Linked DNA regions of Homo sapiens: region 2 is linked to region 1. Evidence: fine-mapped expression QTL. A gene starts in region 1. The other region holds a variant in brackets. All regions are shown on one strand. Distances are between the middles of the regions. Region 1 holds the start of TOB1 (transducer of ERBB2, 1). Region 2 has its middle 41 kb from the start of TOB1-AS1.

Region 1 (4,000 bases):
TTAATGCTACTGATATTTAATCAGTACCTATCAGATGACTGCTCTCATATTTCAAATCTGGAATTACAGATTGAAGACATTCAGAAAAGAGAACTTGTCCCTTCTCTTTAGAGAATTATTGAAAAGTACAGATAAGTTTGACAAAATTACAATTCATCTATCTTTAGACATTTTAGTCTCAGCCATGCCTAATATGCCCCCCCAATATAAAATTACTAATCAAGACACATGGTCCCGCAGTTCTAGATGTTTGGTACAGTACCATTATTTGCCTAATGGTAAAAGAAGTTGTGCTTCTAGAACACGTGAAAAATGAAGTGTTTCTTTTGGTAAGGCATTCCAAGGATATCCTGTCTAGTTTCTTGAAATTTCTGTGCTTAATTAGAAAACTAAAAATAACTCACTTTTATTACAGATGGACTTGTCATTACAGAAAACCAAAAACAAACAAATAAAAAAAGAAAACTGAACAAATCATTTATATTTGACGCTTTGATGACATTTCAATGCAGAGGAAGGGACATTTTAATTTAAATGCTTTCACAGTTTTGCCATACTTTCACATTTCAATTCCACTCCTGTTTGCAACTAAAAAACCCAAACACTCAAAAAAAAAAAAAAATCACATTAATCAGAATTTAAGGAGTCACTTAGTAAAACTATGTTTTAGGAATCTGTACAATAAACATGAAATCAGTCACCTGACCACTCCCCACCCTCAGCCCATTCCACAAACCCATCTTCCCACCCCTTCTCCTACGCATTGAGCCTTCAGAAATACCCTTTCTCAGTGCGGTTCCTTCTAAAAAGGAGAGGCGGGAGAGTCAGGGTGGAGAAGGCGGCTCCAACCAGATTTTGCGTCCACAAAGCCAAAAGCTTCTAGGCCTGGCATGTACGGCGGGTTTGTGCCCGAGGAGCACAGCTGGTCTACACGGGCCCGCCCCGTAGACACCCTACTCCTCGGTGAGCTGCGGTTTAACTTCCTTATAGCAGGTTGAGAGTGCAGGCCCCAACGTTTGGAGGGGAAGGCGGCGCCCCAACTGGTGTTTTTCCAGGAAGTGCTCCAAGAATGGAGAGGAGAGGGGAAAGGGGAAAGGGGAAGGCCAGGCGATGGGCGTTTCATTCATTGCTTCTTTCTCCCCGTCCCCTCCTTCGCTCCCCCCAGACTTTCCCCTTTTCCCAGTCCGAGTTTGACGTCGGTCTCCTGGATACCAGGCAGCCAATCGCCTCGTTGCGAAGGGACCAGCGCAGCCAATCAGGCGTCGTTGCTACCTGTGAGTAATATTTTTAGCTGAGAGGGACGCTCGATTCCACTCCCGATGTAATTTCGTGTATTTCTCTGGGGCAGGTTGTGAAAAAGGCACTTACCCGCCCCCCACCACGAGTCCCTCTCTTACCCCACTCCCTAGGTACCCGCACATATTTCAGCCAAGAATGATCTTAAACGCGCTTTACAAGCAGGCACCGCGTTTATTCTGTGCACCTGCGATCCAGCAAGCCCTAGAAATGCACGCATGCGTGTGTGTGTAGACATGGACACAGATACATACGCAGTTTGGCCTCGTGTCGCCACACTCTGGGCACGGCGTGGGCTGGGACATTTGGAATAAACGGATCCGAGTCGCAGCCGGGGTCGCACCGGGAGGCCTGAGGCTGCGGAAGCAGTTAAACTGCCGGCGGGGCGGGAGCTGTGGCGGCCTCCCTTCCCCACCCCCAGCCCGGCTCCACGTCTTTGGGTTCTGCAGCTGCCACTCTCTGGGTGGCGGTTGGCCTAGGCCTTGGGGTGATTAATATTCAATTAATCGGGTGCACAAGTCCCGGTCACAGTTTGCCCTTTCTCTACCCCGCCCCTGGGGTGGGCTGGAGGCCGATTTGGTAGCTATTCCACGAGCAGGATCCTCCTTGGCCGCAGACCCCCGCGGAGAGGGCACTTTCTGGGTACTCTTGCCGCTCCTCCAGCCCCGGTTCTCCTGAGCCGCTTCGCCACCAGCTTCGTCCCCCTCCCCCTCTGCCCGGCGCTCTCCGCCTAAACCGGGCGTCAGCCGCCCTACCCCACCCCTTTCTCTCTCATTGGCACGTCTGCCCCCACAGTCCCTTTCCAGACGTTCTCTTCATTCCGTCCCCAGTGCTCCGATCGTCGGTTCATTGGCCCTCCTGGAGCCCGGAGGGTGCGGCTTCCCCACCCCTGCGTCCGCCGCGCGTCCGGACAGGGGCAGGCGGGACTTGGCCAATGGCGTCGGGGGGCAGGGCAGGGGCGGAGCCGGCCGGCGGGGGACCGGGGTGCCGGGCGGGGAGCGCGGGGAATGGCTGCGCCGCCGGAGCTGTGTGACGCGGAGCGGGCGCGCGCACCCCGACGGAGGGGATGGGGGCGGGGAGGAGGCCATAAAACGAGAGGCGGGGCGCGCGCCGCGGCAGAAGGAGCGAAGCTCTGGCCCGGCGTGTAGCGGGCGCACTACGGGGACGCTGGGCCGGGCACCGGGCTGTGTGGAGAAGTGAGCGCGCTCGTCTGACCCCCGTGCCCGCCACCCCGAGCCACTAACGGCGATCTCCCAAGGCCTGCCCGAGGCCTCTGTCCTCTGTCCTCAGCCCCGCAGCGGCAACGTCTTGCACTCGGCGAGCTCGCCGCTCCCGACCCTCCCGCGCCCCCGCCCTGCCGCGCTGCTCCCCGCCCAGCCGCGGGTCTGTGGTCCAAGCCGCCCCGAAGCAGCCCGTAAGTATCTCGGGGCGCCGGGCGGGGTCGGCGAGGAGACGGGAGCCCCGGGCCCAGGCGGCGGAGGAGGGGCTGCAGCGGCGTCGAGCCCTGGGCCCTCGGGAGCTCGGGGACGGCGGGGTCGCGGCCCTGGGCGCCGAGGGGGCAGCGCCAGGACCCGAGGGGAGCGGCTCCGAGGGGCCGCCGGCGCGTCGGGCTCGTCCTGGGCAGTTGGCCGGGGACGGGCGGCCCGGGGCGAGCTGACGGGAATTGGGGGGTTGGGGTGCCCGGAGGAGCGACGAGCTCGCGGTGGAACGCTGGGGTTCGAGGGGCCGGTGGCCGCGAGGCTGAAAATGGTGCCGAGGAACCGGTGCTCCCCCAGGCTCTGGCCGGCTCCCAGGAGCCCGGGGCGGGGGCCACGGGGCGGGGAGCAGCGGGTCGGGTTACGGCGGGGGAGGGGAGCGGCTGACCCGGCGCCCCGACCTGCTCGGTGCTGGGTGCCCAGCCGGGAGAGGTTGCTCTTCCATTTCCCGGGCCTTCCTCCTCCTTCTCCGAGGAGGCTCGTACTCTCTTCCTCCTCCACCTCCACCTCCTCTTGCTGTTGCTGCTGCTGTAGCGCTTGGGCTCCGAGGGCTGTGAGCAGAAATCTAATGAGATCTAACTGGCTGTTTATGTAATTCTTCACACTCCTGCCTGTCTTAAGGCGTTGCTTTGTAACTACCTTCCACCGAGCCTGAATTTCGCTCGGCTGCACCTTCAAGCAATTGGGCTTAATCAGCTGCCTCTGCCGGCACTCAGGCTTTTGACTTGGAAAGTGTTTGTAGTTTGGGGGCAGCCAGAGATTCTTTTTCCCTTTGTCACCACGAATATGGAAAATAGAACAGACGAATTAAGACCAACTTGATTTTTAAACGTACTTTTAAATCAACTTCAGTGTGCAAATAGATCCCTTTCGCAAATATCTTCTGTTTGCCCTTGATCTTTTCTTATCCCCACCCAGTGCTGATCCAGCAAACGTTTAAAGGTCGACCTTACCATACTTGCCTCTCCGGCTGTTACCGTGAGAGGGAGGGAGGGAGAGAGGGACAGACGGAGGTTTTTTAAAATCAGACTAAAACTCAGAAACCCTGGCCTTAAACAGAATAATCAATAGTTTTAATTTGTGTCTTTGCTTTTGTTATACTTGCTGCCGAATAGGTATTTTCAGATTTAGAAAAATACACATTGAAAACAAAAGGCCCAGAGAAGCTGGATTTTATTATATTGTATGCTCTTAGTATACTTAAGGCCGAAACTATATAGAATAATTTG
Region 2 (4,512 bases), 41 kb before region 1:
GGAAGGGGTCAGCCAGCAGGAGGTAACCCCTGGTGGAAAGGGAACAGAGAAGCTGCAAACACTGTCCAAAACAAACTTCTGCCACCTTACCACGTTGCCCTGGGCCTGCCCTATTTGCCGTCACCAGCAGAGGACAAAGAAAGGTTATGTGCAAAGGTACTTTGTGTTCCCGCGGCAGGGGGCCAGCGGGGAACTCTCGTCACCTGGTTGTGCTAGGGATTCCAGGGCATGCTCTAAACCACAGAGGAGGGCGGCCTCTGAATGGGGCCACGACAAAACAGGCCTGGGTGAAGCTGCTATTCGTCTGCTATGAGACCTGGAGGGGACTCAGTCCTCCAGCCTTGGATCACAGGACTCCCCAAGGCTACAAGGGCCATTGGGGGTGTCAGAGTCCTGGGACCCTGACCAGCTTCCCAGCCAGCCTCCAGGAGCGCCGTCATCCCTGCTGCAGAGAGAACACAGAGATTAAGAGTTATAGGCTTGGCTGGGCCAGATGCTATGGCTCACACATGTAATCCCAGTACTTTGGGAGGCAGAGGCAGGCAGATCACCTGAGGTCAGGAGTTTGAGACCAGCCTGGCCAACATGGTGAAGCTCCGTCTCTACTAAAATTATAAAAATTAGCCGGGCATGGTGGCACATACCTGTAGTCCAGCTGCTTGGGAAGCTGAGGCAGGAGAATCGCTTGAACTCAGGAGGCGGAGGTTGAAGTGAACAGAGATCATGCCACTGCACTCCAGCCTGGGCAACACAGCAAGACTCCGTCTTTAAAACAAAAACAAAAACAAAGAGTCACAGGCTTTAGAATCAGCCGCACTTGGGGTCAAGTTTCAACTCTGCCTCCTTCCAGCAGTGGGACCCAGGGCAAGCAATCAATTTCCTTTGAGCCTGAGTTTCCTCATCTGTGAAATGGGGCTAATCGTTGGGACTGTTTTGAAGACGCATGTCTTCTGACTCGTACACTGAGCACAGTGGCTGACTCAACTGTCAATGCCAGACATGCATAATGACAATATAAATGTAATGATAATTCCTTCCAGAAATACCTGTCGAGCACCTGTGACAGGCCAGGCACTGTGCAGGGTGCTCTTGAAGATATGAAGGTGAGTAAGACAAGTCCCACCCTGTCTGGAGGACATGCCCAAGAATGATTCTAACCAAACCTGAGAATGCTGAGTGATGGGAGGGAAGGCATGCAGAGGAGGTCAGCATAGGCATTCAGGGAAGCCTTCCTGGAGGAGGCAGCACTTGAGCTGGGCCTGGGCGGGTGGCTAGGACTGTGGATGTGGGGAGGAGAGGAAGGACATGCCTACATGAGGAAGGAAGTAGAGTGAAAGAGCTGTTCAAGTTTAGGGCACACAGAAGCTCCATGTGGCTGGAGTACAGTGCCCAGTGAGGACATGGGGGGTGGACAGCATGCCAGGTGGGACAGAGCGTCACTGTCCCCCAAATACACCATCTCCCTCTGCCTTGCTGGGTGACCTTGAGCTGGGTACTCTGTGTCTCTGAGTCTCATATCTCTCATTTGTGAAATTAAAGGTCTGGAGTGATTAGTGGTTCACCACCTTTCCCCCAAGAACTTTAGTTACTCCCTGTTTTTCTCCCCATTGTCTCGCATACATGTTGTGTCCTTGCATGAAGTCACTGAAGGTTTTGATCAAGGCTACGGATGATCAATCACAGGTGATGTGAAAAAGCCCCCTGGCTCCAGTGTGGTGATGGGTGGGAAGATGGGAGGCCCCCACCATGAGCCATGAGGGCCCTGGTGAGGACTGGGCTGAGGGAGGTGAAGGAGAAAACACCATTAGGAACTGGAGCTCTGGCCTAGAAGTCCTGACAGGGGCTGAGGGGAGTTAAGGGTCAGAAGGCAGAGCCTGGGTGATTGACGGTCAGATGTATAGGTTGGGGTTTCAGCCAGAGGGGCATCCCTCCCATCCCCAGAGGGAGAACAATGGGTTGGTTTAAACAAATTGAATTTGAGGCACCTCTAAGACATCATGGTAGACTGTCCAGTAGGGAATGGATTTTTTTTTCTTTTTTGAGAC[A/G]GAGTCTCGCCCCAGGTTAGAGTGCAGTGGTGCAATCTCGGCTCACTGCAACCTCCGCCTCCCGGGTTCAAGTGATTCTCCTGCCTCAGCCTCCTGACTAACTGGGACTACAGGCGCATGCCACCATGCCCAGCTAATTTTTTTGTATTTTGTTTTTGTTTTTTAGTAGAGTTTTTTTTTTTTTTTTTTTTTTTAGTAGAGACAGGGTTTCACCACGTTGGCCAGGATGGTCTTGATCTCTTGACCTCATGGTCCACCCGCCTCAGCCTCCCAAAGCGCAGGGATAACAGGCGTGAGCCACTGTGCCCAGCCTTTTTTTTTTTTTTTTTGTTTTTTGAGACAGAGTCTCACTCTGTTGCCCAGGCTGGAGTGCAGTGGCGCAATCTTGGCTCACTGCAGCCTCTGCCTCCCAGGTTCCAGCTATTCTCCTGCCTCAGCCTCCCCAGTAGCTGGGATTACAGGTGCCTGCCACCATGCCTGGCTAATTTTTGTATTTTTAGTAGAGACGGGGTTTCACCATGTTGACCAGGCTGGTCTCAAACTCCTGGCCTCAGGTGATCCTCCTGCCTCGGCCTCCCAAAGTGCTGGGATTGCAGGTGTGAGCCACTGTGCCCCCCTGAACTCTTAACCAGTCTTTCTCATCCCTTGGAGAAATCCTAAAGTGCTCACAGAGGTGGTCCCTTCCCATTTCCACTGGCAGTAGCTCTGAATTCTGGTGTTCATTGTGGGCTGGGCGGGCAGAGGCAGAAGGGTTTGTGATGGGAGCAGGGTTTTCTGCCCCGGTCCTGCTGGCCCTTCTCTATTCTGTACTGGTCTTTGATGGGGGCCAGGCATTGGTAGGTGGGACTGATGATGGGCCTAATGATTGACTAGTGTATTCGCCAATGGAACACACGTGGGCCTCCTAACCCAGCAATACAAGGGGTCTGGAAGATCACCTGTTCCTGGCTCCCCACACCCCACCCCAGATCAGAAAAGAGCAGGGAGAAAGAGACCTGTTGCTGTTTTTTATCTTTATAAAATCCTAACAGAAAATAGAATATTTATCTGTGAGAAGGGTACACTGGCTTAACTAAAATGTCAAGTTTCATTGCTGGAATTATGAGGGACATGATAAATGTACATTTATTCAGTAATTACTCATTCAGGATTCTGTTTTGTATGAAACAAAACCAGGACATGCTGCTCAGAAGCTCTGATTAGTTTTGCTTCATACAAAATCAGCTCCTGGCCGGGCATGGTGGCTCATGCCTGTAATCCCAGCACTTTGGGAGGCCGAGGTAGGCAGATCACGAGGTCAGGAGTTTGAGACCAGCCTGGCCAACATGGGAAAACCCCATCTTTACTAAAAATACAAAAATTAGCCGGGCGTAGTGGCAGGTGCCTGTAATCCCAGCTACTTGGGAGGCTGAGGCAGGAGAATTGCTTGAACCTGGGAGGCAGAGGTGAGCCAAGATCGAGCCACTGCACTCCAGCCTGGGGGACAAGAGCGAGACTGTCTGGAAAAAAAAAATCAGCTCCTGAATTAATAATTATTGGATGAGTGTTACTTGATAGCCCTACATTTTAAGAACAGAGAGACAGAGAGAGAGAAAGAGTTTGTGAGTGTGTGTGTGTGTGGCGGGGGAAGAGGTACAGAGCTGAGGTAATAAAAAGGTAAAATGCTCTCATTTTACCAATGAGAAAACAGAAGTGTAGCGGGTAAGTGACCAGCTCAAGGTCACACAATGAGGCAAGGTCACACAGCAGGGAGGGCCAGACCCCAGACCCCAAACCTGGGCCCTCCCTGGTGCTCTTTGCTGCTATGGTTTTTGGGGGTGGAGTGTGTGAGGGAAGCTGAAGAGTTAACAATGAATTCTGTACCTTCAGGCCATGGCCAACAGCTGCCTGGGAGATAAGGGGAGGCGACCCCTGGGAACAAACAGCCTGTGGATTGGAGAGATTGAGCAAGGCTGGAAAAACAGGTGCAGGTGGCAACAGGGAAGGGGGTGGGGCAGGAGACAGAGCCAGAGGGAGCAGAGGAGGTTCCAGGGCTCCTGGGACCCCAGAGGGTCCCTGTTGCCAGAAGGCACTGGCTGGGCCAGAGTCCAGGGTGAGCAGAATCAGGTCCCAGGCTTCACCCTCTGCAAGCTTCTCTATGACCCCACAGGGGGTTAACTGGGCCTTGAATTGCAGAACCAGAAGGGGCTGAAGGGAGCACCCAGGCCTCAGCTGGCTCTGGTCTGAGACTCAGGTCAGAGGCAGAGGTGATGGCCACACCTGGGAGGCTGGGTTGCCCTTGGACAAAGCAGCGGCCGCAGCTGTTTAGGTTCTGCCACCCTCTCCCCTCCTCTGTCCCCAAAGGCTATCCAGCCCCCGCAGCAGTCAGTCCTTGGGTTTCACAGGCCCTGCCCTGGAGAGCTTTTCTTTAGAACCAGCCCCATCAGAAATCCCTCCCCCAGAGAATCACTGGGAGCTTAGGCTGCTG

What was found. PIP is the estimated chance that this variant, and not a neighbour inherited with it, causes the effect. A credible set is the group of variants that fine-mapping cannot tell apart.
Region 2: its variant is the best candidate, but not a certain one, in a credible set for the expression of TOB1 in whole blood (INTERVAL, PIP 0.77).

What each region holds. Positions count from the first base shown.
Region 1 is chr17:50,864,768-50,868,767 of GRCh38, reverse strand. TOB1 (transducer of ERBB2, 1) reads left to right here and starts at 2,414. Exons shown (of 2, transcript NM_005749.4): 1 at 2,414-2,710. TOB1-AS1 (TOB1 antisense RNA 1) reads right to left here and starts at 2,089. Exons shown (of 2, transcript NR_038458.1): 1 at 1,551-2,089; 2 at 397-1,272. RefSeq lists silencers at 2,079-2,588, 2,599-3,208 and an enhancer at 3,749-3,798.
Region 2 is chr17:50,905,089-50,909,600 of GRCh38, reverse strand. No RefSeq gene overlaps it. Among named protein-coding and RNA genes, the nearest start is that of TOB1-AS1, 41 kb to the right of the region's middle. RefSeq lists a silencer at 39-333 and an enhancer at 1-770. The variant A/G (reference allele first, on the strand shown) is at 2,046.